2 separate regions of the Homo sapiens genome follow, and region 2 is linked to region 1. A link means that fine-mapping ties the variant in region 1 to the expression of a gene that starts in the linked region. Tissue or cell type: hypothalamus. Region 1 holds a variant in brackets; the other region holds the start of a gene. All regions are shown on one strand. Distances are from middle to middle.

Region 1 (2,844 bases):
TTAAAATAAACCATGCACTAGACAAAGAATTCACTTTGGATCTGAGCCTTCCTTTGTGATCTTCCTTCCTTCTTCTAGAGTAGAAGAAAAAGATATCTTCGCAAAGCATCTAAGCCTGCTTTAGATTCTCCAAAAGTTAGTTTTTAAAAAAAAAAATCTTTTTTTTTTTAATAGAGATAGGATCTCGCTATGTTGCCTAGACTGATCTCTTTTCTTTTTCTTTTTTTTTTTTTTTTGAGATGGAGTCTCACCCTGTCGCCCAGGCTGGAGTGCAGTGGCGCGATCTCGGCTCATTGCAGGCTCCGCCTCTCGGGTTCACGCCGTTCTCCTGCCTCAGCCTCACGAGTACCTGGGACTATAGGCGCCCGCCACTGCGCCCAGCTAATTTTTTGTATTTTTAGTAGAGACGGAGTTTCACCGTGGTCTCAATCTCCTGACCTCGTGATCCGCCCGCCTGGGCCTCCCAAAGTGCTGGGATTACAGGCGTGAGCCACTGCGCCCGGCCACCTAGGCTGGTCTCAAACTCCTGGTGTCAAGTGATCTTTCTGCCTTGGCCTTCCAGAGTGCTGGCGTGAGCCGCCATGCCTGGCCCAAAAGCTAGCTTTGAGGGTGCTAGAGACCTCCCTCAGCTTTCACGGACAGGAATAATGCCTGTTTTTTTTTCTGAATGTTTAAGCATCCTGGGATTGGAAAACTGCAGGGCAGAACTCTGGGGACACAGCACCTAGGTGGTGGGTTCCTTGAGAGCAGCAAGGGCCTGAGGAGAGTGGGTAACCCCCTCAAAGGTGTATAGACTTTGGCAGCCACTTTGGCTCTGCACGTAAGCTGTCACCCCATGGCCCAGAGATTACCTGCCTGTGTTTCAAATGTGGATGTAGAGGGGTGGGGTGGGAATTCTGGTGGGCTAAAAATGTGGTGTGAGCCAAACAGGCTATGAAAAAAAATAGTGTTTGCTATTAAGCAAGACACGCTCAGACTACAAAAGGCAACGAAGTGGGGTTCACCAAAGCAGAACCAGGCTTAATACCAGCTTGAGAGTGAGCTCCAAACACACCAGAGAGCACAGAGAAAAGCAGGATGGGATCTCAGGGGCTACAGCCACAGGGACTTCCCAGGAAGAGGAAGAGTGGAGATCTACAGGGTCAGTGGAGGAGAGCAGGAAGAGAAGGGTTTTACTCTTCCAGAAGTCTGATGGCCTACCGCAGTCCCCAAGGAACATGGTGCAAGTGGCCTTTGCCCAAAGCAGGGACCCAAAGCCACAGCTTAATATCACAGCACAAAATTCATTCCTTCAATAAGCATATACTTTTTTCTACTTCCTCCCAACTAGTCTCCTTGTTTCTTGCTTCTGTCCAATCCAGTCCCCCCATAACAGCCATGGAGAGACTTCTAAAATGGACTCTGTTGCTTATGTTCTCTGGCAGAGGGGGACCAGGCATCAGGGACTGAAAGGCCTCGGCCCCTTGCATGTCTTTCTTCATGTCTCTGCCTGTTTTCTCAGATGCTCCCTCTGCTGCTGCAGTGCTGGGAACCTTCTCCAAAGGGGAAGAGGATCTCCAGTCTCCATCTCCACACCCTGAAAGTCGAAACTTAAAGCTGCCCAGTTCCAACTCAAAAGATGGAGGCTACCCTGGAGTATCCTTGATTCCATCTGCTCCCTGACCTGCTGAGAGTGGCCACCTTCTGTGACTCACTGCCTCTCTACCGTATCCCC[C/G]TCCTCCACACTGGGAGCTTCCAACTCTGCCGGGAAATGGAGCAAGAGGGGCAGAACCCCAGAAGCAGACTCTGCAGCCAGTTTGCAGTCCATGTTAACTTGACCTAATTCACAAGGAGAGGTCCCCATTTATAAAGAAACAAACCTATTCAGGGAAGACCAACTCGGGGACTTCAACACCCTGAAAATACTCCAAGTACCAGAGTCTTTTCTCTCCAGGCCCAGACTGTTCAAGGTCTTAAGCAGCCCAACACTTGGCATTTGGAAAACAAGCAATTACCATTTCATCCGAACAAATGACATCCTGAAGTCTAGTTAGGAAGACAGCCTGGTGAGAGATTTGTTTTCTGAGTTGTAAATGTACTTAAAGGAAAAAAAGTCCTGATGATCTAAAATTCATATTACCTTTGCTTTTGCATTCCTCAAGTCCCTCGTTTAAACAAAAATGAAATTATATGAAATTAGAATTGCTCCCCCTCTTCAAGTAATCTATCAAAGCAGGGTTCGATTGGTATGCCTTCTCCTAAAATAGTGTTTCTCAACATGTGGTCACCTCTGATACATACTTTAAATATACATTCCTAGATTCTACTCCAGATTGCAGACAGGGAGTGGGGGAGGGCACAGTCGTTTCTAACAGGCTTTCTAAGAAATTCCCATGGAAATTTGAGAACCACTGTCCTAACCAGTGAAAGGCAAAAAAATATATACATACAGATAAAAAATAAAGACTCTTATGAGCTTATATGAACTGGAAGTTTTGGAATCCCCCAAATGCCTGTAACTTCTCTCAAAAAATATTTCATGCAATTACTTGCAGAAGGCTGCTAGCATGTTGTAAACAGAAAAACAGATGAGAATACGAACTCCTCAAATCATAAGAATAATTTACTCCAGGAAGGTGATGGGTTGCCCTTGGTGCAGAGGTGGGATGAGACCTGTAAAGACAGAGACATTCAGGTCTGGCAGGTTCCCCTCTGGTTGCGGGTATAGGAACAGACAGGGATACTGGGGGAGGACAAACTGCCATCAGGCAGGGCCAGGAGGCAGAACAGCAGGAATGCTGAGGTGCCCCATCTTTGTTGGGATGTCCATCCTCCTCCATACAGCCTCATGCTTCACTGCATGCC
Region 2 (2,653 bases), 22 kb before region 1:
TTGGCAGGTCCTGACTCCTTTGGACCCCCAGCCTCACAGTCCCAGGAAGCTTCCTCCTTTTCCCTGCAAAAGACTCTGCTCAGACCAGATTTACTTCCCTGTGCCACCCCAGTGAGCAGCCTGAAGAGTGTTCAGCAGCTGCCGAGCTCTGGGAGGCTGGAGTGCTGGCCAGGGGTCCCAGACCCCGGGCTGCTGTTTACTCAAACTGCAGAGCCTCTATAGCCTTTACAACTGTTTCCTGGGCAGGAGGGAGCAAGACAGCTGGGCCTCTCTCTGGCCTCTGGCTTCCACTGGCTTTTCCTTTGGAAAAAGCCAGTTCAAATGGTGCTCACTCTAGGAATCGCTTCAACTCGGAGCCCTGGAGGTGAGCAGGGCCGGGCACGGGCCGGGCACATACACCCCCTCTAGGGAGCAGGGAAGGGCACAGGCCAGGGGAAGCTGGAGACAAAAGAGGAGACAGGGACAGAGATAAAAACAGGGACTGTGACAAGAACACAGGATGGGAAGGGCAGAGACAGAAATAGAGGCAGGCTTAAGGATCTAGACAGGTCATGCCAGCCCAGGTTCAAGGCAGAGGGGCGTAGGGGGACAGAGAGAGAGACACAGGAAGCACAGAGGGGAGAAAGCTCTGCTTAGCAGACTTGCCAAAGCTGAAGACCCCACTGTTGCCACAAAGGGGCCCACAGGAAAGCTAGGGGTTGCAATCGCCTGTCAGGACCCACATTTTCACCCTGAGCTGTGCACACTTTCCAACGGCAAGCAAAAGGAGCACAATCTAGTTAAGTTAGGACTGGCAAGATTCACTTCTGATTTAAAACTTAAGACAGCAACAATAAAGATACTCAGCTGAAATGCCACCCAACAAAGCCAGCTCCCCTGGAAAGTTAAAGTTTAGCACCCCCATCCCAGCACCCTGTACCTTTAAGGAAGAGAAGGTTCCCTCCGCTTCCCAGCCGAAGAGGCAGGTTATTCTAGGATATAGGGGAGGCTTACCTAAAACTGAGTTATTCTCCTTTCCTCCTCTGGCCAGCCTCTCTTCACTCTGGGGAGCTTTTACCATTTAAGGTCAATGTTACATCTGGCTCCGGAGCTCAGAGCCGAGAAGCCTCTGGCTGCAGAACCTCGGCCGCACGCCTCCTCTGAGAGGGGCTGGGACTTAGAGCCGAGAGCTCCTCTGGGAGCCCCACTCCGGCCTGGCTCGGGGGATAATGGCAGGGAAAGCCGACCAGCTGGCCTCAGGGCTCAGGGCAGGCTGGGCCTTTGGGGCAGTCGCTCACCCTGGGCCCCTCCGATGGGTATCCACACAGCAGATGGCAGTCCCCATGGCAACTCGTGCCACTGGACACTGTCCTGGCCGGACGGGAACAAAGGGACCCTGCAGATCTCCCCACCCGCCTGGAGCCTCCAGCAAGCATGTGAGCCTGGAGAAGACCCTGGGCCAGCGCCAAGAGAAACTGGGAATGGTTCCTGTCCTGGGGATTCGGGGGCAGGGGCTGCTCCCACTGCGTTAAACTCTTGGGATTGCCAGAGAGAATGGCCTGGGAGATTCAGCTACTCCCAGACTTGGCACCAGCCCCAGGGATGTCAACCTTGCTCCTCCATTAAACAGCCTGTGGTCTTAACATCGTGGAGCCTCAGTCTCCTCATCTCTAAAGTGGAAATAATAATGATAATGCCCGACTCACTAGGTAGTCAGGGGATTAAATGAGATGTTAGTCAAGTGTTTAACACACTGCCAGCATCTCATAAGAGCTAGATCAGTATGAATGAGCTTCCTGCCCCTGCCCAGGAAATCCATACCCTGTCCATACACACTCTTCACCTGCCTTGGGTATAGGGCCTACCCAAGGCCAGGATCATGGAGCTCCAAGCTGGGGGCAAGCCACATGGGGACTTCAGCCCCTTCTGTGGTTAGAGCAGCACAGAGAAACCCTAGGTAAAGTTGCTAGATAAATTACAGGACACCCATTTAAATTTGGATTTCAGATAAACACAGGACATACTTGTATTAAAGACTGTTATTTATCTGAAATTCAAATTTAATTAGTCATCCTCTATTTTTGTTTGATAAATCCGGGAACCCTAGCTTTTGGCCATCATTAGCCACCCAGAAAACATTCAGTAGTCATGGTAGAGAGCACTAGGGATTGGAGCTCCCAGGCCTATGGCCTCAAGCTCTCCTGGCAAACACAGTCCTTATGCTCAGCTCCTGGCCACAGATCAGTTGTGCAGCAGTGGCAGATGCTCTCCACTGAGCCTGGCCCACTGAGCCTCCATCCCAGCACCTTCCTCAGGCATGTGGTTCTCAGGAAGTCCTGTCTCTTCTGTGTGGTTGTTGTAAGAGAGATCACTAACAGGGGTGCAGCGCATGAAGTCCGCTACCCTCATCAATAATTGTTTTTTGTAAATGAAACCAGAGGAGGCTGTCTTGGGTACTAGCCATGCTTTCTCTCAAGTGTCCACACCTGTCCACATGGAGGTACAGGCTCCCCCCACAACCCCCGTCCCCCACAAAGCCACATGGTGGTAACTACTAGAATTGCAAGTATATGGTCTAGAAGGAACTGACCAAACTCTTCAGTGCTGTTTCTCCAACTTCAATGTGCATTAGAACCCCCAAGTGTGAAGCTCCTTGGGTTCCTCTTTCAGAAAT

Which allele goes with the higher level. Positions count from the first base shown, and alleles are read on the strand shown. Sizes are in standard deviations (SD) of each study's normalised expression.
As copies of C replace G in region 1, the expression in hypothalamus of the gene that starts at base 1,213 in region 2 goes up (moderate effect, 0.48 SD a copy in GTEx).

Evidence for each region. PIP is the estimated chance that this variant, and not a neighbour inherited with it, causes the effect.
Region 2: it holds the start of IRAG1, and the variant in region 1 is fine-mapped to the expression of IRAG1 in hypothalamus (GTEx, PIP above 0.99). The same link has a PIP of 0.9 or more in caudate, nucleus accumbens, prefrontal cortex and spinal cord.

The regions. Positions count from the first base shown.
Region 1 is chr11:10,714,041-10,716,884 of GRCh38, forward strand. No RefSeq gene overlaps it. Among named protein-coding and RNA genes, the nearest start is that of IRAG1, 22 kb to the left of the region's middle. The variant C/G (reference allele first, on the strand shown) is at 1,715.
Region 2 is chr11:10,692,543-10,695,195 of GRCh38, forward strand. IRAG1 (inositol 1,4,5-triphosphate receptor associated 1) reads right to left here and starts at 1,213. Exons shown (of 21, transcript NM_130385.4): 1 at 994-1,213. The coding sequence starts at 1,060.